Regions from separate parts of the Homo sapiens genome. Here all the other regions are linked to region 2. Evidence: fine-mapped expression QTL. A gene starts in region 2. Each other region holds a variant in brackets. All regions are shown on one strand. Distances are between the middles of the regions.

Evidence for each region.
Region 1: its variant is fine-mapped to the expression of SP5 in tibial artery (GTEx, PIP above 0.99).
Region 3: its variant is fine-mapped to the expression of SP5 in tibial artery (GTEx, PIP above 0.99). The same link has a PIP of 0.9 or more in coronary artery.

Annotation. Positions count from the first base shown.
Region 1 is chr2:170,810,600-170,820,410 of GRCh38, forward strand. GAD1 (glutamate decarboxylase 1) reads left to right here and starts at 6,288. Exons shown (of 17, transcript NM_000817.3): 1 at 6,288-6,449; 2 at 7,930-8,074. The coding sequence starts at 7,993. GAD1-AS1 (GAD1 antisense RNA 1) reads right to left here and starts at 8,052. Exons shown (of 4, transcript NR_197761.1): 1 at 7,787-8,052; 2 at 7,119-7,316; 3 at 6,255-6,433; 4 at 4,024-5,886. RefSeq lists a silencer at 6,103-6,182 and enhancers at 6,270-6,439, 7,679-8,202, 8,203-8,725. The variant C/G (reference allele first, on the strand shown) is at 3,795.
Region 2 is chr2:170,710,420-170,720,230 of GRCh38, forward strand. It overlaps SP5 (Sp5 transcription factor), which reads left to right and starts at 4,918. Exons shown (of 2, transcript NM_001003845.3): 1 at 4,918-5,144; 2 at 5,840-7,659. The coding sequence starts at 5,094. The coding sequence ends at 6,985. The region is part of intron 5 of ERICH2-DT (ERICH2 divergent transcript); the gene reads right to left. LINC01124 (long intergenic non-protein coding RNA 1124) reads right to left here and starts at 4,148. Exons shown (of 1, transcript NR_027433.1): 1 at 2,020-4,148. LOC100130256 (a long non-coding RNA gene) reads right to left here and starts at 1,588. Exons shown (of 10, transcript NR_187629.1): 1 at 1,445-1,588. RefSeq lists a silencer at 4,235-4,284 and enhancers at 4,502-5,291, 5,292-6,079, 6,080-6,869.
Region 3 is chr2:170,372,051-170,381,861 of GRCh38, forward strand. All of the region lies in intron 9 of MYO3B (myosin IIIB), which reads left to right. Among named protein-coding and RNA genes, the nearest start is that of MYO3B-AS1, 26 kb to the left of the region's middle. The variant C/G (reference allele first, on the strand shown) is at 5,675.

The DNA of each region.
Region 1 (9,811 bases), 100 kb after region 2:
TAAGGGGAAGGAGCAGAAGCAGCTATTAAACATGTATTGAACACCATTAACTAGGCACACTTGAGCTTGCTAAAATGGGTTCTCTTTTTTTTGAGACTGAGTCTTGCTCTGTTGCCCAGGCTGGAGTGCAGTGGGCAATCTCAGCTCACTGCAACCTCTGCCTCCCAGGTTCAAGCAATTCTGCCTCAGCCTCCTGAGTAGCTGGGATCACAGGCGTGCGCAACAATGCCTGGCTAATTTTTTTATTTTTAGTAGAGACGGGGGTTTCACCACGTTGGCCAGGCTGATCTCGAACTCCTGACCTCAGGTGATTTGCCTGCCTCAGCCTCCCAAAGTGCTGGGAATTACAGGCGTGAGCCACCACGCCCGGCCTAAAATGGGTTCTATGAGCATCAAATAAGATAGCCCACAAGGCTGATATTAACCCCCATTTTACTTAGAAGTAAACTTGGAGCAGTCAAACAATAGCCGATAAGTAGAATCTAGATGTAAACTCAAGTCAGACTGACTTCAACATTTTTGCTTTTCTCCCAGTAAAAGCTGCCTTGAGGGCCTCAAGAGGTTCTTGAGTCCATGGTATTTACAACATGAGAAGAGTTGCCAGTGAGAAGAATCACAAAATACCTGTAATAATAAATTGTTTCAGATGAATGAAACCTCATCTGGTCTTATCTTGTACCCAAACCCTCCCATTATGGGGGTCTGGAGAGATTCTGTGATTTTTCCAAGGTCAAATGATTATTATGTGACAGAGCCAGAAGGCTTCACTGAACAAGCATAAGGCGCTGGGACTGAGAGAAGAAGAAAGCATTTCCAGCCCCCTGCGCACTAAGCATGTGGTCTGGGAAGTCCTGTAGCCTCTCTGGACTTAAGTTTCCTCATCAAGAAAACAGAAGACCTCAGGTGATAATTAACTGAGAATTCATACAATAAACACACCACACAATTTCCCTGAGACTTATTTCCTTCCTCTATGAGGATAATTATTAGTCGTGTTGCTAAAGAGAGAGAGACCGCAAGAGAGACCGAGATATATAGAGAGAGTTCTCTAATGTCCCCCACAGACCCCAGCACCACCACTGTTGGCCAGACTGGGCCCACAGTAAGCAATTCTGGGCAGCCTATGTCAGACTTTACCCTGAGTTCCACCTTGCGCCTGCGTTGGCTTTTTTTTTTTTTTTTTTTTTTTTTGAGGCAAGAGTCTCACTCTGTTGCTCAGGCTGGAGTGCAGTGGCACGATCTTGGCTCCCTGCAACCTCTGCCTCCCGACTTCACATGATTCTCGTGCCTCAGACTCCCAAGTAGCTGGGATTCCAGGTCGTGCAGCACCATAACTGGCTAATTTTTGTATGTTTAATAGAGATTGGGTTTCTCCATGTTGCCCAGGCTAGTCTCGAACTCCTGGCCTCAAGAGATCTGCCTGCCTCGGCCTCCTAAAGTGCAGGGATTACAGGCGTGAACCACCGCACACAGTCCCCGTTGCCCTTCTTGGTATAGGAGAGTGTATTCGTCAGCTATTGTCACAATATTTGATATAGTTTGGATGTTTGTCCTCTCTAATCTCGTGCTGAAATGTGACCCCCAATGTTGAAGGTGGGGCCTAATGGGAACGGCAATCAATCATGCACCCCTTCTGTTAAAGTTCCAGTTTCCTCCCCTGAGTAACTGGTCAGGATTAGGGGAAGAAACCTGGCCTGGAATAGAAGTTTAAGTTATTAGATTCGCCACAACTAAGTCAGAACTTTCCAGAACCTTTTCACAAACAACAGTCCCAGATACCTATGTTTGAAAATGGGGACTAAATATCTGTTATTTTAAGTAGTCCAAGAGCTTTTACACTAAAAGAAATGAATAAAATATTACTCTCCTCAGTCTCCCATGAATTCTGTATTTCACTAAAGCATCTCAGGTGGGAAATCCTCCTTTTTGCATCCCACCCTTTTGGGGAAGGACTGATTTCGCCTTGGTTTTTGTTGAGATCAGAAGACACAGATATACCTTTAAAGCTCCCCATCAGAATTACAATCCAGAACTGTATTTCCTTGGTTTCCAGTTTTGCAGTGAATCAGTTTCTTGCCTAATATTCACAGGTTCACTACATTTGAGACACAGCTAGGTGGGAAAAAAACAGATGCCATGCACCCCCTAGTCTTTCACCAAAGAGACGCACTACCCTAGGTGTTTCAGGTCACTTCCAGAGCACTTCTGACCATTTGAAAAGGCCCTGCTTTGTGAAATTTGGCAGGGATGAGTATGAGCCTGCATTCTTCCTTGAAGAACTGCTCCCTTGGGAGGCCTGTTGTTTCTTCTCAGAAATTGTAATCTATTGCCACCTGGTGGTCATTCTGTCTTCGAGTTTAGAATAGCAAGAATTGGACGTTTCAAGATTTGCACAAGGAGATTTGCCCAAACACAAATCACCCTGTCCTCCTTGATTCATTTATTTGTATTAGAATATTTTCATCTTCTGACTATCAAGGGGGAAGGACCATTTGCCAGTTATCCGAAGAATCCAGCTCTCTTCTTTAGAAAAAGTGGCTGTAATTCCTAGAGTCCTCTCCAGCCTTCCAGCATTCTGCTGTCACCCCTCCCACCCCCTCTCACCCTTTTAACATTTTCCTGCCTCCCAGCTGTGAGTGTTGTGTGGTCTGTTGGGATGGGGGTGTGGATTTAGCTATGATCCTTCAAAAAAGTCCAGAATAATTCAGGGAACTATCTTTAAAGTACAAAAACAGCAAATGGACCTTAGCTCCGACTTAAGCAGAATGAAAGGTTAAGTAACGCTTCCCCCAGTTCTCGTCTCGGGAGACAGACGTTTAACCGGTGAGCACTGCCATTTTTTTTTTCCTTTCTGGTCATAAATTAGACACTTAAAATAGATTTTAAGGAGCCAGCTGAAACGAACCAATACCATGGCTCTAAATTACGTTTCCTGGAGGCTAAAAATTCTAATTGCGTCAAAAAAAATTGACGTGTCCTGTCTACTCACCTTGACTGACCACGTTTTAGGCGTGAAGATCTCCCCGCAGCCCGTTTGGGCGCTCCTTCAACGCCTCACGCTCCTCCTACTCACCCGTTTTTCCCTTTGCAGAAAAGGCTTGGCCCCAAATCCGGTTGGAATATCTTTAAACAATCCCCCACCCACCCACGACGGGGAAAGGAATAAAGGGCATTGTGGGCGGAGGGTCGTGTTCCCAAGTCCCAGCGGTGGTTGACCTAAGGAAACGTTATCCTCGGCAGACAGGGTGGAGTAGCCGGGGCTGCAAGCTCGCAAATCCCTAATGCCGGAGAGAGACTGGAGGGGTCGCATATCGCCCCCTCCTTCTTCTGCCTTTGAGCGCCGCGTTCCCATTTCTTCAAAGCGCTTCAAATACAATCGAAACAGCTGGGCGGACACCACTCCCTTCCGGGCCACCCCTCATCACCGGTTCGAGTCCCCGGAGAGGATATCTTTTTTCCACCCCCATTATCCCAAGAATCCTCCCCCAGGAATGATAAAAGATTAAAGGAAGAGTGAAAGACATAAACAAAAATATAGGTTTCAAATGTTGTTTAGAGCCGAATGACAACCACGGCCACTCTTAGTTCAAATTCCTACCGGAGAGAAGAGCAGTGGGCGAAATACCTCACCCCCCAACTAGGCAAAACAAACAGCAGTTACTGTCAGGAGGGAGGAGGGCTGGGGCGAGTCTGGTGGGTTGGCCCATAGCTATTGGCGGAAGCAAACGAAACAGAGGCATGGGGACCAGAAGGACGGGCGCTGTCCTTCGTGCTGAAAGATCTATGCCCTACCT[C/G]AAAACTCAGTAATCTGGATGGAGTGGAATTCCAGGCCTTCAATTCATTACCATTCCTGCTGTGCCCAAGAGTTCGAGTTGGAGGAGATCATTGAAAATTAAATCAAATTTATGAAGTTTCTAAGTGCGCTCCTCTCCCTGCCTCACCGGAATGTCCACTCCCGGCGTGCAGGATAATATAAACCGCAGGGACAATGCAAGCTCCAAAAAATAAGTGCTTGGCACATAGTAGGGGATTAATAAATATTCGTTTAATCAATTACTGCTAATATTCAATTAAACATTCTAAACAAGGACGGACAAAAGTCTTCATTCCTCCCCTACTCACCATAAAGGAGAAAGAGAGGGATGTCCTCGAAGCTGGACGGACTCAGCTTCAGCTTGCGTTACCTAGCCTTGCAGGAGATTCCTTCTCCAACGAGATTATTTCATTGGCTAAAACGTTAGGGGTGTTTTGAACTCTGGGGTCAAAGGAGGAAGTGGTTGGAAATGTCTCAATCTCGTGCCACAGGTGAAGTAAACGAATCTTCCTTTCCAGGGAATCACGGGTTTTGGGAAAAGGTTGAGGCGAGCGGGCGTCTATGCTGGACAATGAAGAACGAGGGGCACCGGGAGATGTGTTGCCTCCTCCTTCCTGTCTCCTGCCCCGTGCGTCTTGAATGATTTAGCACTGGCACCTGGCTCCCTGATTGGTGCGAGCGTCTCGTTTAGGGAAGGCTCTAGGAGGGCCGGTGGATGGAATTCCGAGCTTCACCTGGTTGTATGCCGCCCACTTCAAGCAGCGCAGAGCAGCTGCCGGTTGAGTGGTTTGGGGGGACGTTTCCTACGTGGAGCAGACACCCCCAGCCTGTCCAGCCCCAAGCCTCAGTGCCCGGGGCTGCAGTCACCGCGCGCCCCGCCGTTTAGGATGTTTTTTGTGTCCTTAAAAAGTGCCGGGGATTTCATCGTCAGGTGGAGACAAGGCGACAAAACAGTAGTTTCTTTAGTACCAAAGGCAACGCGATTATTTCAAACCCCACAGCGAGATCCCTCTTGCTGATCAGGCCATGTCTGCCCAGGGCGGACCCTTCGATCTCCCTTATGGAACTCTCGGTAATTTATAATATTTTTGTGTGTGTTTCCATTGTGTTGTGGTGAAAGGCGATAAGGCATTCAAAGAAAACGGACGGGCCTCCGCTGAACCAGTGAGGCCCCAGACGTGCGCATAAATAACCCCTGCGTGCTGCACCACCTGGGGAGAGGGGGAGGACCACGGTAAATACCAGTAAAGGAATCACTGCCTACACGGTGTCACCCAGACACGCACAGACATCAACATTTTTGCCCTAAAGAAAAAAACTGGGGGAGAAGAAAGGGGAGAACTTAAACTAGTGACAGGGCGGTGAGGGAAGGCATGAAGAGGCAAGCCGGCGCGTAACCGTCTGGCCAGCAGCTCCAGGTGTGGGCTCCGCTCGGGCGCTGGCGGAGAGACCCGGGAGCGCAGGGCCTCTCCGTCTCTGGGCTCTTGGCGCCCTCTGGTGGGAATTTCTCTTTCAACGCATTTTTACGGCGAGGGGCTTCTCCCAACGCAGCGGTTCTTTTAACTACGCCTAAATATTGCAAAGGGAGAATCCTTAAAGCGCGTGAAATCGAAGGGGGAGCGGGCCAGGGCAAGGGGGGCTGGTCCGCCCCTTCCGGGCACCTCTGTGCTCGGGTGCCCCATGCGCGTGCAGCGGCGCTCGTGCGTGTCATCAACCTTCAAACGTGATTAATCAGGAGGCCTTCTTTTCCCATCACCAAGGGGGCCAAAGCGAGGAGCGAGCGCATAGCAAAAGGGACGCGGGGTCCTTTTCTCTGCCGGTGGCACTGGGTAGCTGTGGCCAGGTGTGGTACTTTGATGGGGCCCAGGGCTGGATGAGGAAACTGTAATTCCTCCATGGTCTAAGAGGTCTCCCCTCATTTCTGCCTCCTTTGCGGTTACAACAATCCCAGCTCCGTAGAGAGCCAACGAGGACACGACCCAAAGCGCGCTTTCGCTCAAGGAAGCGTCGCAGGGTCACAGATCTGGGGGAACCCCGGGGAAAAGCACTGAGGCAAAACCGCCGCTCGTCTCCTACAATATATGGGAGGGGGAGGGGAAATGGGAGAGGGGAAAGGAGGGGAGGGAAGAAGAAACGCTCAGAAAGGCAGAATTCTTCGTAGGAATTATCTTTTCCCTCCTCTCACCCGACAGCCTGCCTATTTCCAAAGGAAAAAAAAAAAGCGTGTTGAGTACGTTCTGGATTACTCATAAGACCTTTTTTTTTTCCTTCCGGGCGCAAAACCGTGAGCTGGATTTATAATCGCCCTATAAAGCTCCAGAGGCGGTCAGGCACCTGCAGAGGAGCCCCGCCGCTCCGCCGACTAGCTGCCCCCGCGAGCAACGGCCTCGTGATTTCCCCGCCGATCCGGTCCCCGCCTCCCCACTCTGCCCCCGCCTACCCCGGAGCCGTGCAGCCGCCTCTCCGAATCTCTCTCTTCTCCTGGCGCTCGCGTGCGAGAGGGAACTAGCGAGAACGAGGAAGCAGCTGGAGGTGACGCCGGGCAGATTACGCCTGTCAGGGCCGAGCCGAGCGGATCGCTGGGCGCTGTGCAGAGGAAAGGCGGGAGTGCCCGGCTCGCTGTCGCAGAGCCGAGGTGGGTAAGCTAGCGACCACCTGGACTTCCCAGCGCCCAACCGTGGCTTTTCAGCCAGGTCCTCTCCTCCCGCGGCTTCTCAACCAACCCCATCCCAGCGCCGGCCACCCAACCTCCCGAAATGAGTGCTTCCTGCCCGCCCTAGTCCCTGCTCTCCACGGGTGCGCTGCGCAGGGACCCCCCCCCCCCCGCCTCCCTCGTCACTCTTCTTATCCCTGCCCTCCGGATTCACGCCCCGGGGAAGCACGGAGGCTGAGGCTCTAGTTGAAGTGGGGCAAGAGCGATTTTCCCTTGAGCTTCCATGCTGCGAGCGCCTGTCCCTCCAAAGGGCGCCTGGGCAGCAGCAGCCGAAGGCGCTACTAGGAACGGTAACCTGTTACTTTTCCAGGGGCCGTAGTCGACCCGCTGCCCGAGTTGCTGTGCGACTGCGCGCGCGGGGCTAGGAGTGAGGTCGGAGGGAGGGTGTGGAGGCGATGGCCGGTGGGCCCTTCTCTGTGGGGTCCTCGATCTACCCAGATTAGCCCGCAATCTCTCTGTCCCGGGGCCTTCGGGCGCCATCGCGCCAGCGCCGAGAGTCGAGCAGGGGCGCCGCGCAAGATCTTTGTCCGCCGCCTCCTGCGCGCTGCGCGCAAGTTCGTTTCCCCGGTGACGTTCCCCATGCTTACTTACCCCACCCTCTCTGGATCTGTACCGCGAGAAATCTGGGGTCCTCAGGGGGCTAGGTAGAGGAGAAACGCTGAAACCGGACCGAAACCTCGCCCTAGGCTTAGCGATGGCTAAAAACCGGCTGGGATAAGAGGGAGGCAAGCAACATTCCGACTCGCTGCTTTCTGGCTGTCTGGAGTGCAAGGTGACTGTGGTTCTTCTCTGGCCAAGTCCGAGGGAGAACGTAAAGATATGGGCCTTTTTCCCCCTCTCACCTTGTCTCACCAAAGTCCCTAGTCCCCGGAGCAGTTAGCCTCTTTCTTTCCAGGGAATTAGCCAGACACAACAACGGGAACCAGACACCGAACCAGACATGCCCGCCCCGTGCGCCCTCCCCCCGCTGGCCCACACGCCGGCTGCTGAGTGCCCAATGGGGCTTGTAGCGGCTCGGCTGGAAAATCGCTCACTGAGCGCTCCCCTGTGCTCCTAGCCTAGTCCCCCACACCCTTGCGTCTTGTACTGGCCTTGGACCCCCACCCCGACCCCGACCCCGCCTCGTCTCGGCGCTTCACTCCAGGTCGCGCCGATGCACCGCCAGACTCGAGAGCGGCCCAGGGCTACGCTCCCTGCGCCCCAGTACCGGAGCTAGCGCGCACGTCTCCTCCGCTGCCCCCACCCCTGCGCACCCCTACCAGGCAGGCTCGCTGCCTTTCCTCCCTCTTGTCTCTCCAGAGCCGGATCTTCAAGGGGAGCCTCCGTGCCCCCGGCTGCTCAGTCCCTCCGGTGTGCAGGACCCCGGAAGTCCTCCCCGCACAGCTCTCGCTTCTCTTTGCAGCCTGTTTCTGCGCCGGACCAGTCGAGGACTCTGGACAGTAGAGGCCCCGGGACGACCGAGCTGATGGCGTCTTCGACCCCATCTTCGTCCGCAACCTCCTCGAACGCGGGAGCGGACCCCAATACCACTAACCTGCGCCCCACAAGTAGGTCCCGCCCCAATTTTCTATCAAATGAACTGCAGGGAAGATGGGGGCGCTGGGACGTCGGGAGGCTGAGCTGGCGGAAAGGGAAGGGGGAGCGCGGAGATAATGGAGGCTGGGAAATAAATGGGGCTCTGACCCCGTCCCTGCCAGAGGTCATTCGGCTGTCAGGGACGCTAGGTGACTCCCAGGGCACCGGAAAGCGAGGACCACGCAAGGTCCGAGCAGCGGCGATCGTTGAGGGCTTCGCGGAGGAGGAGGGGCGCGCAGCCAGGGTGTTGTTTTTATTCTGTTGTGTGTGGTTTCTTTGCTCCGTGGGACGACAGGGGTCAGCGCAGGGGGCGGAATGAAGAGCTAGGAGCCCCAGCAGGAATAAGAGTTTTCAGTCCCCGGCTTTCGTTGAGCCAAGATCTGACCTCCTCCTTTCCCCCTGGGCTGTGTTCAAAGTCTATAATCAGCGGAAATTTCGACGTTAATTGCAGCTTTTAGAAAACTCAAGGTCCCTAATTGCTCCAAATTTGCATCAAGCTATTGACGAGTTAGGGAGAAGTCAGGGGCGGGAAAGGTGCATAAAACTGAGACTGAGCCTTGACATTTCATACAATTAATTACATCTCAGAGAAATAAATAAATAAATAAATAAATAGGGGAGCGGGCGGCATCCTGAGTGGCAAGAGATGGGGAACTGGGAGGGGGCAAGAAGCTTTATCATAGAGAGGAGAGAGCACCTCTCTCCTTATCCCAGGCAAGAGATCTGTCAGGAGGTGACATGTCCCGAAAAGAGAGAAAGAAAAGAGACACCAGATAAAAGAGGGGGGAGGATTTATGCTTCCCTGTCTTAAGTGCGACAGGCTCCTCAACCCATTTCCAGAATCTATCTTTAATTTTATTTCCTACCTCTGTAAAGGCTTGAGATGAGAAAATTGTTTTTCTTTTTCCTTGTTGGAGTGAAGAAGTGTCTCCTGACCCCACCCCCCTAAAAAAACTTATCAGCTTCAGACTGTAAGTGTTCCCACTCCCCCATTTATTTATTTCTGAGATGTAATTAATTGTATGAATTTCCAGAATTTGTATACAGAAAGGGCTTAAGAAGGATAGTGTGGTTACAGGGAGTGCTTATTGATGCGCTTTTATGGCACTTTATATTTGAGAAAATAAGTATCCTCATCAATGAAGTGGGGATTATTACCGGAAAGCCCCTTTAGACGCTGGCATTGGCTCCCGGGCAGGAGGTCTCGTGTTAAGTCCTCAGGTCTCATTCCAATTTCCTTTGCAGCTCCCTCTTCCCGCCACCCAGGAGGGATACAATTACCCACACAACAAAGAGGGCCTCGGGAGAGTCGCCAGCCCTGGTAGCATATGAACCAGGCACCGGCGTTGGAGCTGGCCAGGGCAGGGCGGGAGGAACGCGAGGCCTGCGCGCCTTTGTGTGGTGCTTTCGCCTTGATGGATTTCTTTTCTGACGCTTTCCACATTTCCCGCTCCCTTTTGCCGCCTGGGGGTGGGGGTGGGGGGTTAGCGGGCAGTTGTGTTAATTTGCCCTCCACTCCCGGCGCCCTTACGGAATTCCCGGTGGCCGCCAGTCGCCGGCGCAAATGCCAAGTCACCGGTAGGAGACACAACAGAGGCGATGACCTGAATCCGCACGTGGCCTGGTTCGCCTGGAAGCTGCCAAAGCGAAGGCAAGAGAGCCCGGGACCCTGCTGTAAAACAGCAAGCAGCACGTGTCCCAGGCACACT
Region 2 (9,811 bases):
TCTAGGGAAGAAGCTTTCAGACATGGAATTGAACTCACGTTATTTACCTGCTCAGAAGAAGTTCCTACTATAATGTATACAGCATGGGGGCAAACTCCGTGTTCTGACTTCTCTAATCTGGCCCCACCATGTCCACACCAACAGATCAAAGACCCAAAACTTCATCGTTGTTCAACTTTTCACTGAAGTGGAATTCTCTTTCTTCTACTGTCCCTTTCCCCTTCACCTTCTTCCTTTCTTTGCACTAAAATTAACTAAAGTTAAAATTCTGTAGGTCCTTAAAGTCTCCTCCAAACCCCAGCTCCTTGATAAAGCCTCCTTTGACCACCCCAGTCCTCACCAATCCTCTCTGACTTCCTACTACATTTGTGTGCTCTGTGGCACCAGTCATACGCTGATGACATTGGTACACACAATTCCACTCTACCACCCAACATCAATGAGCATTTATTGAGCATCTACTGAAGCTCACAGCATTGTGCAGGCAGGATACATATCATACAAATGCTGTTTCCTCCTCCCACCAAATGAGGGAGAATTAGATGAGATTTTTAAAAATTCCTCCTAGTTCTACAACCAGTATTGTATACTGATCCAATTTGGAAGTTTAAGTTTAAAATTAATTCAAGGATTCCAGTTGAGGAAATGGTCCCACTTCCTTGGAAAGTAAACTAGCTCGGTCACCAGGCTAGGTTACCCACGTTGTAATTGCTTGTGATTGACTACTCCACCGTATTAATGATGAAGTGCCCCCGACTTGAGATGCAGGCGTTAGGGCATCTGTGATTTGATCTGCAGCTTAAACTGGGAGACCACTCCAAATCCTCAAAGTTAACTTTGAGTATCAGATTGCAATCCCTCCCCCCACCACCATAAAAAAAAAATCTTTCAAATTGAAGAGGCAAAGTTTGAACCTTTCCTTGTTGAGAGATGAGAACAATAGCAGCTTTCTGCTCTAGCACAGCTTCAAAAGGCTGCCGAGGGACTGCTCTGAGAATTCTTGGTTGTAGATGACTGAAGAAATGCATGGGCAGCCTCCTGCGATTCAGTGCCGCATTAGCACCGGGGAAATTCTGTCCCCACCCTCCCAGAACCTTTAGTATAGCAACGATTTAACTAGGCAGATATGGGCAACTGCAAAATTGAGTCTCCTTGGCAAGGAGTGGGGAGATCCAGCCGATTAAGCAACATCTTACTGTGAAAGGCCAAAGCATTAAGAATTTGCTGAAATGATCTAAATAATATCTAGATTTTTAAAAAATCTAGCTTGAGAGGGGTGACTCTCTGGTTGGATTTATGCCAGAGGCATGCGTCCCTTCTAGCTGCAAGAAAATGCCCGAGGCGAGGTACCAAGCTTGGGCTGGAAGTAGCAACCCCTGACTTAATCCCAGAGCGCGCAGAGCTGGTCCGTCCCCTGCGCAAGTGTCACTGCGGGTTCACCTACCGGCCTCTTCCTCTCGCAGGTGGCATGCAGTCGGCGCTCGCCGCCCGCCCGCAAAGAAACGGCAATGCAAACTTCCCAGCCTGGGAACCCCGCTGCTTGGAGAGCAGCTCCGCTGTGCCAGCCGCCGCCAGGAGACTGGTATTCAACCTCCCCGCCCCCCGCCACGGTTAAAGTTTGCTCCACATTCGCAGCTCCCACCCCACCCCCATCTCCGCCCCGAGGCAGGAGGACCACATAGGAGTTCCTGGGTCCACCGTGCGCAAACACACCCACCAACAAAAGAAAGCCCATTAAATCTTCCCTCCTGTGAACTCGCGCCCCAACGGATACCTCTTTGAACTGACCCCCGCCCCCGCAGCCCCCGCGCTGTCTGGGGCGCGCCTGGCCCTCCCGGGCTTACTCTCTCCCCCACAGCTGCGCACTTTTGCAGCGCGCTCGGTCTTTGATGTCTCTTTACATTATGGCAGAGCAGCCACACGCTCTTCCCGGGCGCGGGGCTTTGTGTAATGGAACTGACATTTGGCCTTGATACCTGTATCTCTTGGTGATTACAACAAATTTCTAAAATAAATATTGTACTTTGATCTCCCAGCATTGCATTTTTAATGGACGCTCTCAACATTACTTCATTAAGAACTTTTTCCAGGAGCTCCGAGGGCCAAGGGGGTTGGGGGAGACTAAACAGCTATTCAGCAAAGCCTCTCTCCAAACTTCAGCTGGGGCCTGGGAGGACCGGAATCTGGACGGGTTTTCACAAACGGAGATGAGGCCGAGAGCAGCCAACTGCGACCACTCAAGAGAGGGCCTTCTGTACGCTCAGCACCGTCCTAAAGACCTTGCGTATATTAACTCTTAAACCTATAGCCACTCTACAAGGGGTGCACTATTGTAACTCCCATTTTACAAACCGCAAAACTGAGGTACACAGCGGCTGAGTACCTTGCTTGCCAAGGTCACCAACTAGAAAGTGGCAAGGCGGGAAAAATGTCTTCAGAGAGTTCGGACTCCGAGCTTTCAACCACCAAGCCACTAACTTTGACCCTGTTGGCCCACTGATGGTTTAACTGGCTAATGGGGGCATCTTGGAGAAAAAGCTAATTCCCATAACTATGGGGATGTGAAATGGCTTTTCTGGCCTTTTTGGGAAAGTAGCTATCAGATTCAATAAAAAGGGCTGCCTTCCATCCTGCTTAGCCCGGCCCTGCCCGCCTCCCTGGGAAAGGGGACTTCGAAGATCTCAAAGAAGCTGGAAAGGAAACCAGCGCTAAGGAACCAGATCGCTTCGAGGGTGCAAGCATGTGCAGGCGCGAGTGTGTGCCAAGGGGCTCCCTGGCCTCCGACTTGCATCCAGGGAAGAGCTCCCTCGAGTCTCACGCTTCTCCAAGACTCAAATCCTGGACGGGAGCGTGGGAAGGAGCAGGTTGGCCAGGCCTCGGATGAAACCACTAAGCTCTCTCCCCTTCTCCGCTCCCAGAGCAGCCGACCTCATCTTCAGAAGCCAGATCGGGTCGGCCAAGTTGTGTGGTCGCCGCTCGCGTTTTAGAGGGGACAACTCGTTGGGGGAGAAGGGGGCGTGCGAGTGCAGGATGTGCGAGGGACCCATTGTATTTGGGTCGCAAGCAGCCCACCCGTCTTGAGTACGATATTCTCATTCCGCAGGCGCGCCCTGGGCGTGGGAGAAGGTGGGCCCGGAGGCATCGCATCCCCGACCCCTGATGGAAGTGCGGAGGGCATCCTTATACAGTCCAGATTCCGAGTCCGTTGTAGTTAGGCTAACCTCTGACGCTGCATCGGGAGATAGGTCACCCCGTCCGTCCCGGTCGCAGTGCGGTTCCCGTGAGGAAGACGGGCAGAGAGGCCGGGCGCGAACTGATTAGGGGCTCCCCCACGGCCGGCGGCCTGGAGAGTGGAGACTGTGTCCGACGGGAGGTGGGTGGGGGAGAGGAGTAGGCCGAGCTCCGGCGGCCACTCCGCAGTGCGCTCTCGCGAGCCGGGGCCGCGAGGCCTCCAACGCGGTTCCGCACCCCTAATGCCCCAGGGCGGTGAGCACCCCGCGGTTCCCCGCCCGCCTCTTCCTCCTTCCCCGCCCGCGCGCCCGGGAGAGGCGATCCCCGCGTCCGCAGTGCCGGGGCAGGACGCGCCCTGCGCCCTGGGCCAGGAGGAGGCAGGTGGCCCTCCTCGGCAGGAGGTGAGCCGCCAGGGAGGGATGGGGGTCACCCAAGCCCCTGCAAGCGCGACCCTGCCCAGAGCAAAGCACGCCCCGCGCCTGGTGAGGAACTTTTTCTTTCCAAAGGTGGCAGGAACAAGTCTGTACTGACTTTTCTCCCGCCTTCGGGATCCTCTCTCGTATGATTTGTGGTTTGTGGGACCACAACAACCAGGCTTCCTCGACCGCGCCTTTTTTCCAGTAGCTCCTGGTCTGCCAGGCTTGCGAGAGGGCGCGCTGGCTTGGCGGGGCTCCGGGCGAGAAATCACCAGCAGCGCTGGGGCTTTCGGCCCCCCACAGCCCAGCCCGGGCCTCCTGGGTGGCCTGGGGAGAAGGGGGCGGGACAGCACAGCTTCTTCCCCTCGGGTGGGCATGACGGGTCGCCTTGGGTGTCCTGCCGAGCTCAGCTTTGAGGGTATGCGCGGCGCGGGTGTTTTTCCCAGGTCCACTCTGCAAAAGTTGTGGCCTGAGGAAAACTTCCAGGTCGCCAGCAGGAACGTCACAGGAGAGCCCCGGTCGCTCGTCAGGCGGGCGGCCCTGGAGCGTGCGCGCCACCCAACGCCGCGCTGGGCGGCCGCCCGGCCCCGCCCCAGGTCACAGCCCTGCCCTCGGCCCCACCGCGGCGGGCGGGGGACACGCGGCGGGCCGGGCGCTGTCGGTCCCACGCCCCACCGGGGATCTCGCTTGGGTCCGCTGTGTGCGCGGGCGGGTGCGTGTGCGGCGAGGGTGCAGGGTGTGCAAGTAAATACAGGGGAGAGTTACACTCTTTGCCGTCTCAAAGTCCGGCGCCTGGAAGCCGAAGGCAGATTTTTCCAGAGATAACAAAGACACTTTGTCACTTTGGGCGCTGCGTCGGTGCAAATCTTTAATTGCAAGTGTGTGTGTGTGTGTGTGTGTGTATGTTGGGGGGGGCGGGAAGAGTGTCTCGAGCAACCCAAGCGCGGGTCTCCAGGCGGCAAGGCCCCCTTTGATCAGGAAAATCCAATTATTTGTGTATATACATTTCCCACATAGTGATTACTTCATTAATTGTCCCGCCTTTATCTCCTCCCTTCCCATCCCCCCTAATAATCAGTTCTTTTATCCAGACCAACAAACACACCATAGGAGCTTTGTGGATTCAAAGGATTTGCTTTCGCTTCTGAAAGAGCCGCTATTCTTTGATGATTGGGTAGCGGCAAACTTCAAAGCCATAAATCTTCCCTCTGACTGGCTGGCGGCCCAGCAAAGTCCTTATCAAATTCTTGGAGGTGATCCTGAAGCGCTCAGACCGCGCGCGGGGCGAGCGAGCGGGGCGCGGCGAGGGGCAAGGGCGGGGAGGGCCCCGGCGCTCAGAGCAGGCGCCAGGGAGGCAGGCTGGGCGGCCCTTCGTCCTCGCCTTCGGGTGTCCATGCCTCGGCGGCGGCGTCCCGCTCCGCAGCCAGGGGCCTGCAAGCCGTAGCCATGGCCGCGGTGGCCGTCCTCCGGAACGACTCGCTGCAGGCCTTTCTCCAGGTCAGGGCCGAGCCCGGAGGGGGCGGGAGAAAGGTGGAAAGGGCCGTGTCCGGATCTCTCCTGGTACTCCGTGCACCTTGAACCTCAAAGGGAACCCCGCCGATGGGTGCAGCTGGAGCCAGGCCTAGGGGTGCCCACGCCAACTTCACACCTAATCCGGTGTGGCCTTTGCTGGAGGGACGCGTGGATCCGGGATTGTTCGGAGGTGCCCGGCTGGCCGAGAACAGGACCGGAGCTCACCCTGCTGGGCCCTCCTGCTGATTTCAGCCTGGGGCGGGCCAGGGAGGAGCGCGAAGGCAGTGAGGACAAGAGAGCTTAAAAGATGGGAGGGAGAGCGGCCGGCCGGCGGGGTTGTGGGTGTTTCCCGACTCTTACTGACCACGGAGCCGGGAGGGGCCCGTCGGATGCCTCCCCCTCCCACTTCGCGCCTGCTTCCTCTAAGGCTGGATGGCGTCTCAGTGCACCAAGTAGTTTAGCAAGAAGCGCTCGCGGGCCCCACGTTCAGGTAGCGCAGGCACCAAAAGTTTCCCTCGGCCGGTGGGTGCGTGCGTGGGGTGCGGTGGCGGGGGAGGGACGGCCGGGACGGAGGAGGGGCGGCGGTATAATAGCGGGCGTGGGGGCGGCGGGCTGGCCCGGAGTCCGCGCTTGGAGCTAACCTTTTGTCTCTTCTCCGCCCTCCCTCGCCGCCTATGCAGGACCGCACCCCCAGCGCCTCCCCGGACCTGGGCAAGCACTCGCCCCTGGCATTGCTGGCCGCCACCTGTAGCCGCATCGGCCAGCCGGGCGCGGCGGCGCCCCCGGACTTCCTGCAGGTGCCCTACGACCCCGCGCTGGGCTCACCCTCCAGGCTCTTCCACCCGTGGACCGCCGACATGCCGGCGCACTCGCCAGGCGCACTGCCGCCCCCGCATCCCAGCTTGGGGCTGACGCCGCAGAAGACGCACCTGCAGCCGTCCTTCGGGGCTGCGCACGAGCTTCCCCTTACACCCCCCGCCGACCCCTCGTACCCCTACGAGTTCTCGCCGGTCAAGATGCTGCCCTCGAGCATGGCGGCTCTGCCCGCCAGCTGCGCGCCCGCCTACGTGCCCTACGCGGCGCAGGCCGCGCTGCCGCCAGGCTACTCCAACCTGCTGCCTCCGCCGCCGCCACCGCCCCCGCCGCCCACCTGCCGCCAGTTGTCACCCAACCCGGCCCCCGACGACCTCCCGTGGTGGAGCATCCCGCAGGCGGGCGCCGGGCCGGGGGCCTCCGGGGTTCCGGGAAGCGGCCTCTCCGGCGCCTGTGCCGGGGCCCCCCACGCGCCCCGCTTCCCCGCCTCTGCGGCCGCTGCTGCTGCGGCCGCCGCCGCCCTACAAAGAGGCCTGGTGTTGGGCCCGTCGGACTTTGCGCAGTACCAGAGCCAGATCGCCGCGCTGCTGCAGACCAAGGCCCCCCTGGCGGCCACGGCCAGGAGGTGCCGCCGCTGCCGCTGTCCCAACTGCCAGGCGGCGGGCGGCGCCCCCGAGGCGGAGCCGGGGAAGAAGAAGCAGCACGTGTGCCACGTGCCGGGCTGCGGCAAGGTGTACGGGAAGACGTCGCACCTGAAGGCGCACCTGCGCTGGCACACGGGCGAGCGACCCTTCGTGTGCAACTGGCTCTTCTGCGGGAAGAGCTTCACGCGCTCGGACGAGCTGCAGCGGCACCTGCGGACTCACACGGGCGAGAAGCGCTTTGCCTGTCCCGAGTGCGGCAAGCGCTTCATGCGCAGCGACCACCTCGCGAAGCACGTCAAGACTCACCAGAATAAGAAGCTCAAAGTCGCTGAGGCCGGGGTTAAGCGGGAGGACGCGCGGGACCTGTGAGCCCTCCCGGAGGTGGACCCCCTTCCCAGCACCTCTGCGAGAGATCCGGGGACCTGTGGGCAGCTGGCGGAGGGGAGACTCAGCAGACGGACCCTCTCCGTTGCCTGCCTCCCAAAATGGAGCCAGGCTTCCAACTTCCGCTGCCTTCGGACATAGGGACCCAGTTCCCAGGAGCGGGGAGGTAGGGTTGGGGCTGGGGCATTTGGATTGTAATTGGGAGCTCTGCCGTACGCCAGGGCGGTTCCAAACTCTAAACCGTTCCCACCGTCAGGGAGACCTACAGTTTCGGGGGACCACCCTGGTCTGGCCTTGTATATAGGAAATGCTGCTGAACTGAATAGAAAGGAACTTGGGAGATTTGAAACAGTGCTCGGGTTTTCGCTAGGACCGGTTTGGGCTTTGTACAGGTTATTTAATAGCTTTGTTAAAGATAATTATAATAATTATAACATTAATAAAAATGTTGCTTTTGTCTTCAGCTCCATGCAGAGCTACAGCATGATATGTCTCTGTAAAGTGATCAGCAGTTGCAGCGTGAAAATAAATACTTTAACTCAGGGGTCACTACAGGAAGACCCCGTTGAGCCGGTCTCATTTGATCTTTTCTTCTTCTGGGTGGCTGTACTAAGCGGTCGGGTTTCCCCGGGAATTTGATGGTTCCTATAGTCTGCCTGTGTCGGAGGCTTCTTTGGTTTGGAAGGATCTGGGCAAATGTGTTGGGTTCAGGAATGGACAAAGGCAGGCAATTCCGTTTTGTGGTAAAGAGGTAGGGCAAGATTTTCCAATCACAATTTGAGTTTCTCATGCGGCCTTAGGATTCACCCGAGACTGTTTGTCTTCCAAGTTTGTTTTTACCTGACGAATTCCCTGTGGCTTTCTATTTGTTGGTACTCTCGGGACAGGTCACAACTATGCTGGTGTTAAGAGAGGTATTAGAGGCGCCAGGATCTGTTCACAGGTGAGACTTTGTGGAGAGGTACAGAGAAACGGGACCCTTGTTCAGGTTGGTCTTTGCCTGGGAAAGAACCAAGAAGATAGTTTCCCAGACGCCACTCCTGTATTTCAGTCCCGTCACGATAGCCAGCGTTGTTTTGCTTGTTTTCTTTTTAATCTTGCGATGGAAATCTTAACAAGTCTTATTTCACAGTAACCACCCAGGAATTTCTGGCTAGGCCAGGACGTTTAGTTCCATTTTGTATCTGAATTTTATTATGTTTTTAATCATTGAAGTAGTCTAAGATTTTCTCAGGGAAGAGCCAGGAATACTCATGGTTTGGAAATGTGGAAATAGGGTATTTTTTGTCTAGGTGCCTCGCCTTTCTCTAAAAGTTGAAGTTTTGAAGTTTACAAATGTTTTATCAAGTGTCTAACTCCTTGATATTTTCTAATATTTGAGTTTTTAAACCTGTAACTGAAACTTTTATCAGCAGTTAAATCTTGATTTAAGATTAGCAAAGAACAGAAAATGTTCTAAATTTTATTAACATGTTAAGCTAGCATCATTAATGCCAAATTTTAATAGAGCCGAATAATCTTTTCATGATAGTTGAAGTGTGTACAAATTGATAGGATTTCACAGTTCACAAACTGCTTTTACTTTGCCTTTTGTTTGAAGTCAAACTGAAGGATCAGTTCTTAAAAGCTTTGAGGGTTGTTCTTGAATTCTTATACGAAGTAAAACACAAATATCAACATAATTCAGATGAAAATTACTTTTATACTCCTAAGAAATGGCATTTTTATTCTGTAACTTGGGACAAGGTAGTAAATGAATATTAGATTCATAGTGGCAATATACCTTAGAATAAGAGATATTGGAACTATTTAATGACTAATTAGAATGTGAGTCTTCATGGTTCTTCACCTGGGAAGAGGAGTTTGGGTTACATTTTCAAGGGTGTGGCAGTTTGCAAGCAATAGTGATAAAGTTGCTAGGCAGTAATATTAATATACACTTAAATATGTAATCTTAATCAAAATCATTAGATCTAAGTCATTAGATCAAGACTACACATTTTGATGTCTAAAGCAATGTGAAAAGTTATAGAAACTCTCACCTTTCTCTAAAAAGTTACAGAAACTCCCATCTGAACCATGCCCTGGGATCAACTATAGATTCAGAAAAGGATTTTTGGAAAGTGGTGAGAAAGAGGAATCCTTGTTAGAGAGTGAAAATTTTCAAAGGCTTTGGACTCAAAATTTGAAATGATTCTTTCATCTGAAAGAATGACCTTGGTAGAGAAAGAAAAATGGCCATTTAAAAATGAGTCTACTAGCTATTATTGACAGAGCCAATCATTTATTTAGTATCCAAACAGAAGAGGTGTTGAAGATAAAGTTTTCTTATAATTTTTTGGTTGTTAAATATATGGAATTTAATATCTAAGGAAATGAGATATTGGAGATAGATAACTGTGGTTATTAGAGAAAAACAAAATAAATGTATATAATTTTTTAAAGTAGAACAAAGTCTTATGACAAAATAACTTTGTTATGGTTTTACTTAATTGCACCTGCAAATTGAAAAAGTATGGTCTTTAACGTGGTACAGCTGAAAGGCTTGCTCATTGTACCACTGCAAATCTGATAGGATTGTACCACTGCAAATCTGACAACATTAAAGAAGTAGGCAGCATTAAAAAAGTAAGTTTAATCCACCAACTTTATTCAAGGTTTCACTTAAAGATCCCAGCAAACAATTCAATTAAGTTTAAAAAACTTATTGAAGAAAATATGTTAATGATTGCCTCAAATGTCAGTAGGCATTGTAGATTTTAAAGCAACTGTTTTATTAGCATGCAAATGTAATGTACAGTATTCTTTTAA
Region 3 (9,811 bases), 340 kb before region 2:
TGAGGCTGCAGCAAACTGTGATTGCACCACTGCATTCCAGCCTGGGCAACAGAGTGAGACCCTGTCTCAAAAAAAAAAAAAAAAAAAAAAAAAAACAACAACAACAAAGAAAAAAATCTATTGCTCTGCCAGGTTTGGATCTCAGGCCAGCCACTAACTGGATAAGTTTTTAATCTTTCTCTTCCAAAGTTTCTTCTATAAAACGGGGGTTATTTTGAGGGTTAAGTGAGTCAATACATGTAAAATGCTTAGAATAATGCAACCTCCATAAATGTTAGTAGTAGAAGTAGTGTACAAGGTCTATTTAATTCTGAGTCTTTCATTTCTTTTTAACACTAACTACCTCTTGCCCATAATCTGTGCAAATTCATCTTTTTACTTACTGTACAAGATCATGAAAATAAACACTACTGAGGTACTGAATGTTTAAAATATCCCATTTTATCTCTTATTCAATATCTAATTTATTCATTCAAGAGGCATTTATACATGTGTATGTGTCAGGCCCTATGCTGAACAGAGGGACTACAAAGGCAAATCAGATGCAGTTCCTGATAAAGAGCTAATAGTCTGGTGTGTGATAGAGACAAGAATCAGGTGAGAACAGTTCAAAATGAAAAGTACCTAGATAAAGGAATGCCTGGGATACCTCTCAGAGCACCTGGTAAAGACACCTAAGTCAGTCTGGGGTTGGGATGGTAGGGGAAGATGCCCTGGAGCTGCTGGGTAGATGATCCTTGAACTGCCCTGAAGAACAAATCAAAGATAGTCAAGGAAAGGGGGTTATTCGGGGTAGAGGGGAAAGAAAGAGCAATGAGCAAAGGGCAAGGCACAAGGGCTAGAGAGAGCTTGGGGAATCTGGTGAACAATTAGTTGACATGGCTGGAGCTTGGCATGGGGTAGGTGGGAGGGAGAGACAAGGTAGACAGGAGCCACGTCACCATGGGCCTAAGGAGCTTGAATTTGTTTCTTAGGTGCTAGGGAGCCATTGAAGAGTTCCAGAAAGTTGTTCTGATTGCAGTATGGAGAATGAAGCAGGGTAAGGCTGCAGCCAGGGAACTAGTGAGCAGATCATAGTAATTACAAATGGCAGAAGATATTAAAATAATGATATTGTCAGGACTTAGTGATGGATTGATTGAGGGAGATTAGGGAAACAGAGAAGTGTGTTGGGGCCTACCCAAACTGGGCTGCCTCCCTGGCCTGGTTCACAATGCAATCATGTAGAAATTGCAAGACACGTCTTCATAGTCTATCAAATGCAATGCCAAGTACTTCCAGATATTACACAAAGCTTCCAGCTTTCTGCCCAAAAGAGAGTTCTTCAATGGTCTAGGCAGTCCTGGGCCCTCCAGCTGTAGCAACTCTTTTTGGATTTGAGAGCTGATACAGAGTAATGAAACCTATAATCTACAGGGAAAACTTTCTTACCATTCCTGCAAAGGTAAGGAACGTTCAGTCCACTTTAGTACTTTTCCCAGGGGAGAGAGAAGTTGGTAGTTTGAGCAGGATGCAGGGAAGAATGCAAGTTCTTAAAGGATGGGGGAACACTTGGACAGGTAAAGGGGAAGGATATATATAGAGAGGGAGACAACGAAGACAGAAGAGAGAGGAAGCAATGGAGGAAGCAAGAGGGAGTGGGTCAGGGGCCTAAAAGGGAGGTTGACTTTAGAAAGAGAGAAACTCTAAGTTGGGAAAGACACAGAAAGGTTAGATAAAAGTACTCAGAAAACTTAGGAGAGGAGGCATTGTGAGGAAATTCATGTTGAATGGCCTTTAAAAAAAAAAAAAAAACTTAGCAAGGTTTCAGAGTTGGGAGTGGATTGTGGACTCCAGGGAATCGTTAAATCTTTGAGATATTCACTATGAGGAATATGATAAAGGGTCAGTTAAAGATCGACATCATGATTGCTTAATAGCATAGAAAACCCAGGTAGAATGCAACTGAATAGCATCCTATTGTAGTGAAGTTAATCAGTGTCTAAGATAATGCATGTAGAGCATTCAGGACACTTGGCACTAGAAACTCTCAGAAAATGCACCATCACCACTGCCGCCTTTCTCATCTGTCATCTCAATTAACTCTTAGCAGCAAGGAGTTAGGAGTAGAGAAAGCAGACATTATGGTCTTCTTCAGGCTAGAGACTGACTTCAGTGGACATGATGAGTGGGCAAGGAAGCAAGGGAATCGAGGTTAGTAGAAGAGTGGCCTTGGGATCTTTGTGGGTAGGGAAGAAAGTGACACCAGACTGGCTTATTGACTTTGAGGCTGATCTAGTCCTGGGACTGGCTATTACAACAAAGATGAAGAGCAGATTCAGTGAGGGGATGATGAGAAAAGGGATTGTAGAACTGAGATCCTAGGAACTTTTGATAGATAATTAGGAACTAAGGATAGCTGAGCTTGTGGGCAACTTCGGTGGAATAGAAAGAAATGTTTTTTAAGTGTTGACAGGTTGAGGAACTCTTAGATCAGATCCATCTCAGTTATGGCACATATTCAAGAGTATTCAAAAACAAGGCTAAGAATCATGGAGGGCTTGTTCACATAGAGCAGAAGCTGTACTGTGCTTGGAGGGCTTGAATTTGTAAGTCCCCTGTCTCACCTCTCCTGGGTCTAACCATTCAGGCTTTTCTGAGTGCTTTTTGGAAAGCCAGGATGTGATTCATCCCTATTTCACTCTCTCTATATATATATATGCATACATACACACACACACACACACACACACACACACACACACACACACTACAGATATAGATACAGGACAGCAGAGGCACCTGTGGAGAAGTGATATTGTACTATTTGAGATTTGATAGATACCATTACCTGATGCTGATTATAGTGTATGTATGACATCATTGGAATTTAAGTTTTTCCAGTAAATTATAATTGTGCCAATGCATGTATTTGATTCAGGTACAATAGAGCAGTTATTAATCCAAGTCTTACTCTTTTAAAGGAGTAAGCCCTAAAGGGCTAAAGAAGCCCTAAAACTATGTGAACAATGGGCTGAAAGTACATTGTTACTTCATCTGTTGGAGGTGTTTTTAAACTATTTGGTCATTTCCTTTATATCAGCACCTATTTCCTTGATCTGCAAAAAGACGACTTCTTCCCCAAACCAGTTTTGCAAATCCCTGAATTCATTAGTATCATCTGGTATGTCATCTCACTGTTAAAGTTCAGAGAAGTAGATTGAAAACATGCTTTGTATCATTTTACAAGGGTTATTGGGAGAAGAGTGAAACCACTCTCTGGAATGTGAGTGGAGGCAGGGAAAGGACTCGATTGTCTCTGCCACGACCATGAACTCAACCGTGAACCTCAGTAAAATTACAAGATCCAGCATGCCGTGCCCCTGCAGGTGGCTTGGTACTAGCTGAAACCACAGATGTTAAACCCTAAATGCCAAGGGTCTGTTCTAAGTATTACTTGGTAGAAGAATTAAGTTGCTGGGTTTTTTTTTTTTCTGCTCTGTTTAATGGGTTGTCATGTCGCCCTTGCAATTTGCCTGAGGCTGATTAAAACAATGACTTCAGCTTTTGATTTCTTTTCAACCTGCAGCAATGACCTTTAAAAACAGATTTCTCACTATTTAACTGCTAGTTTTCCCCAGTAATCCTTGCTCACTCTCTCCCTCTTCTACCTTCAAATATGTGCATGCATGCACACACACACACACACACACACAGAGCACCCCATATTATATACACTAATGGGTTATTGGGTTCTTATGTAAATAAGTAACTCCAGAAAGATTACTTCATAAAGTGCTGAAGAAGCTTAACACACAGGAGGTTAAATATCCTTTTATCTTCCTAACAGAAGAAATAAATCTATACCTTGCTATAATTAGTATCTGCTATCTATCTATACCTATATCTGTCTATCTACAAATGAGTAAGTTAGTTAATATTAATTTTATGCTGGTGTTACTGATTCTTGCCGCTTAGAGAAGTTGGGTATATCAAATACTGTTTAATATGATTAATGATAAGATGCTGATTTATTGGGATTCTGGCCAAAACGGTGCTTAGATGAAAAATGGGCAGATACTATAATAATTTCCACCCAAACAATTCTCCTATTTTAAAATTTATGCATTGTATTGTTTGAAAGACATAGCCTTAAGTTCAGGGTCAAGATACAGCTCATGTAGTTAAAGGTATCCAGCTGCTATCTCTGTCCATATTTGACTCTCAGTAGAATAATGTCATTCCTCAAAGGTCTGCTATTGTTTTTCTCGTTTGAGGTCCATTATTATATAGTTACGGTAAAATAAAAGTCCCTCTTTCATTGGCTCTGTTATCAAAGGGTATATTGAATGGAAATTAAGATTTAGAAGAAATATTCAACATCACTGACCTTGGTGTAGTAACAGTACTCTATTCTCAGTTTTGAGTAATGTTTTCTTTCTTGTATGGAATCCATTGAATGTAGTGATAAGGGAGTGATCCCTGAGTTCTCTCTATGGCCATGGAGGCTTTTGTCCTAGATTCTTGAGGACTGACATCTTTGAGCCTGCACCTTTTTCCTTATTCCCTCTCTCTATTTTTTTTTTTGCCTCTATCCGCAACAAATTTTACTTCCTTTTCCATCTGGAATCTGGTAACAGTGATAGTCATTCTCCACTTTTTGCAGTTCCACTCTTGGACGGAGGAGAGGGTTCTTATCCTGGGTGTGGAGGAGCAGAGGCAGAGGTGACCTTCACAATGGTGCTGACACAGGGTGACTCTCTAAGAAGCCAGCAGGCATTTCTCAGTGCAGAGATTAACTTCTTAGGAGTATATTGCTTGTTGTTATTATTATTAGGCTGAATTGATAAGCTAGAAGAATTTGTTTCCTTCTCATGTTTGAGTTATGATTTAGAGCACCTTTTTCTATTACTTGTTCTTCATCATAGTTGGGGAGTGAAAGGAAGAGCGTATCCTGTCTCACCTACGTGAAGTTCTTGCAGCTCTGTTTGTACCTACCTACATGGAAGCCTCCACTTCCATAGGCATAACTGGCAGACAGAAAGAGGCTAATTGATTAATGAGTCACTTTTGGGCAAAATATGTTTGTCAATATAGTTCATAGGACTAGCAGCTCAAACAAAGAAGCTAGCAGGCCCAGTGATGAGATATTAGAGAACAATGACACAGAAATGGTTTTAACCATAATGCAGATACAGAGATTAAACTAGAGTGAAAGCTGCAACACTTTAGGAGTTTATTTCATGAGAATAATTCTTCTAGTGTTTAAACCAGTTTGGTGTCCTCTAAAGCTCCTTTCCCACTCATTGGCTGGGCCAAAGATTTGAACAAAGACCCCCATCCTCTACCTCATCTATGCCCACTGTTGTCTTAGGGGAACTCCCAGCCTCTACCTCTGGCTCTGTCTTTCCCGTTCTTCAGATTCTATTCTTACGCTGCACTCATTTCCTTGGACTTGATGGTACAGACTTGCCCTCATTCCCACCCTACTTGATCCATGGATTCAGGCACCAGTTTCCCCTTTACCTGATCCCTGAAACCTAAGGCCCGTCCTGCTCTCCACAGTCTCCCGCTCCACTGCCACACCAAAAGCAAACTCCAGGAACCAGTCCAAGCCAAGACTTTCCCTCTAAGCTCCAACTCGCAAACTCTGTTTGTCTGAGAAGCCAGCCTTGGCAGCCAACATACTTACAAA[C/G]TCATAAAAACAAGTAGGAAATCTAAGAAAAGCAATATAAACTTTACTGGAATTTGAAAACGTCTTCTGAGCCATTAAAACTACAGTGCCTTACCACATACTTTTGATTTAGTAGAATGTTTTTTGCTGTTTATCCATTCATTTATCTATGTCTCCATTCCTCTGAGCTTTGGAATACTCGATCCAAGTAGCTTTTAGTTGGAGATCTGTAATTTTCACATTAAACGAGGAATTCTTCAGCAAAAATTGATAATAGGTCCTATTCTCAAGTAGGGCACTAGATGGAGCATGTGAATTTAAAGGAAATTAAGATCTATAGTTACTAATGACACAAATCACTTAACTCAATAAAATTAAAAAAATAAACCAAGTTTATTTTTATTAATTTCAACTAAAAATAGAGAAATATAAAACAACGTAACGCTTTTTATAAGCTTATGCAAAGTCTAGGAAAATGTTTTTAAAGGAGATAAAAATTGAAATAAATAATGCTTTTTCTCTACGATAGACCCTCCAAACCCCATAGCCAGAGGAGGAAAGTTAAGCGGGCAGCAGTTTCCAAAGAACACTAGTTGTGGAAGGCAGAAATAGTGCTACACATATATATATTTTTTCTGGTTGAGAAAACGAAGTGGTCTTTATCAGAGTAGAGAAGTCTTGCATCTACATCCACTTCTAGATTGCCTACTTCACTTTTAGGAGCAAATATTTCTAAAGAATTTGATCACCTGTAAGCATGGAAAGAGGCCACACATTGCTACTAATAGCAGTTAAAATTTTTAAAAAGTTATTTTTTGTTAATACAATATTATTGGGGAAGATTTTTTACAAGAATCAAGCTCAGATTTGCAGACAACATCTGCATGATTCTTGGAAGTTATATCTGTGAGACAGATTGGCATAGCACACAATCTCCTTCAGGCTCAGAAGATACCAATGTTGATCCTAGTGATATTGCATTGTGTATATTCACACTGAAAATTAAAACTTTCTACTAGACTGCATCTATTTGTGAGATTGCAAGTAAGGTTTGGTCCATGCTTCCATTTTTAGTTGGCTATAAAAATGTCATCCAATGTGAAGCTTGGCATTTCTGTATGCAGCTCAGGCTGCCATTAAATCCAGGTCAGGAGTTACTGAAGGAAAAAAAAGCCTGGAAAACTCACCATTGGTTCAGTGGTATTTTGAGTTCTGACTTCCTTCCCCAGTCTGCCTGTTACAATTTACTTCTCAGAGTCTTAAGATAGCTGCTCCATGCATTCTGACAAGGGTATTTAGTTGTCTTCAGTGAGGAGTGGAGAGGGCTTACTCCATCTTGACCAGAACCAGATCTGAGGTAATTTTTTAATTATTGATTTTCTTTGTCAAATGATGTGCAGAATATGCAATTATAAGATATAAATGTAGGAAGGAGACAAACTAGCTGAATTTAATATGGTAATTTAATTATTTCATGAAAATGTGGTACAATTTTTTTTTTTTTTTTTTTGAGACGGAATCTTGCTCTGTTGCCAGGTTGGCATGCAGTGGCTTGATCTCGGCTCACTGCAACCTCTGCCTCCCGGGTTCAAGCAATTCTCCTGCCTCAGCCTCCTGAGTAGCTGGGGCTACAGGCGTGCACCACCACGCCTAGCTAATTTTTGTATTTTTGGTAGAGACGGGATTTCACCATGTTGGCCAGGATGGTCTTAATCTCTTGACCTTGTGATCCACCCGCCTTGGCCGCCCAAAGTGCTGGGATTACAGGCGTGAACCACTGTACCCAGCCAGTATTTTGTTTTTTGATTAACTTCAAGCAAAATTATTCTTAGGTTTTATGTGAAGGGGATTTTGATCGGAAATATGTATCCTCCTGCTGTTTTATTTAACAAAATGGCTAGCTAGAGGCAGGCAGCAGCTCTGAGTTTTAGTAAAAATCTGTATTACAAACCAATTTGATTTTTCTTTGCCATCACCAATATGTAAAGTCACAGATAAATAATTCTGTTTAATAATTTTAAACTGCTTAGGTTATAAATTTGATTTGATTAAATAAAAATTAAGCTTCATTCTACTTTGGACCTTTATATGAATTAGCAGCAAAACTGGTTCTAGGACTGGAGATGACTAATAGCATGCTTCAAATATCTCTTTTCAAATTTATCAGTGATGGAGATTGAAAGGTAAGATTTAACTTAATAGGCTAGAAAGAGAGAAATCCATTTTATTTGGCCATTAATATTGCATTATAAACTCAAGACTCAATATGCAGAGCTGATAAGTTTGCTTCTTCCTTTTTACCTACTTTTGTGAAATGCATACCAAAGGGTGGGGTGTACATCAAGATTCCATGACTTCTAGCTGGTACTTACCATAAAACTTTCAGTCAACACCAGCTTCTAGGATCTAGCTAGATAGAATTGTATTGGTGGGTGATATCCTCATAAGCTGTGATGTTGATGGGCACAAAAGTGACAGAGAAGAATCAAGAAGTTATGCTTCTGGGCTAGTGAATTTACAGTATGTAGGACAGTTTATGTATGATTTTGTTTAGTCAATGATATTCAGAGTAATGTGTGTAGTTATGCAAATTGTTGATTCCAAATGTTAACAAGGATGTAAGAATAATAATTAGTACATGTTTTCAACTTTATTGCATTTTTATATCCATGACTATATGTGCTTTCACAGCTACCTGGGAGATAGACAGATCAGTTATGAGTAATTCTATTTATAGATGAAGAAAACCGATATACTGGCTGTTAAGGGATTTGCTGAGTGTCTCATACCACATTGCTCGCAACTCTGAAACTAGGGTCCAGAGCTCTTCTAGCCAATGCTTTCCTCCTAAACCGCATTGAGGAGTGATGAGTTTATGAAAGGAATTACGGGAAGGCCTACTTTGACCTTGAATTAATTTTAAACCTTAAAGAGCTATATTTTAGTATACCAGAGGGGATTATTACTGATTATCAAACAAGATTTTTAAATCCTTAGTGAACAGTGCCCTCCAGGAGAAAAACTCACATATATACACAAAAAGATGTGTATAAAGTTTTAAGTGTTGCATTATTACTAGTAGCAAAAAAATTGGAATCAGCCTAAATGTTGATCAACATAGGACTGAGTAGGCCGGGTGCAGTGGCATATGCCTGTAATCCCAGCACTTTGAGAGGCCAAGGTGGCAGGATCACTTGAAGCCAGAAGTTTGAGATTAGCCTGGACAACAAAGCAAAACTCCATCTCTACAAAAAATAATTTTAAAAAATTAGCCAGGCACAATAGTGCATACTTCTAGTACCAGCTAGTTGAGAGGCTGAGTGGGGAGGGTTGCTTGAGCCCAAGAGTTTGAGGCTGCAGTGAGCTATGACTATGCCACTGCATTTCAGCCTGGTGACAGAGCAAGACCCCATCTCTAAAAATTACTAAATAAATAAATAAAATTTTAAAAACAACAACCCCCCCCATCGGACTGAGTAAATAAATAGGTACATATTCATAAAGTATAATACTACCCAGTGATTAAAGTGACTGAACTAGGTAGGTAGGTAAGTGGGTAAGGTAGATAGGTAGATAGATAGATAAATAGAGTTTAAAAATCATAATGTTTAATGAAAAAAGTAAGCTTACAGTATAAAACCTAAGTATGATATCATTTTTATAACTAAACATACAGAACCTGTATATTGCTCATGGGTATCTATAGGCATATGACCAATATTTAAAAATAGACTGGAAGGAAACCCATCAAATAGTGGTCACCTCAGGAGAGAGGAGTGGGATGGGACAAGGGTCACAAAGGGATTTCACATGAATAAGAAAAAACATAAACAGTGATCAATTATTTGGTATTTACTATATTAATCTCTGAAAGTGTTACGTAGGTTAAAAACTATCACAAAAGTTGGGGGTGGTGCTGGTAGATAAAGCAAGGGGACCTCAAGGGAAGTAAGGCACTTATGGCTATACCCCAGTGAGAACTATGTGCCTGACACTGAGCAGAAGTCAGAGGTGTTTATTCTGGAAGTGCTGTCTTTGGCATTTAAGAAAAGCAAGTATGTGTATTAGGTGGGCCCATTTGGTAACACTCCTCACTCTGGCAGGAAGTAGACTTGAACTATGGAGATCACTTTATCCCAATAGTTCTACAGTGGCAGG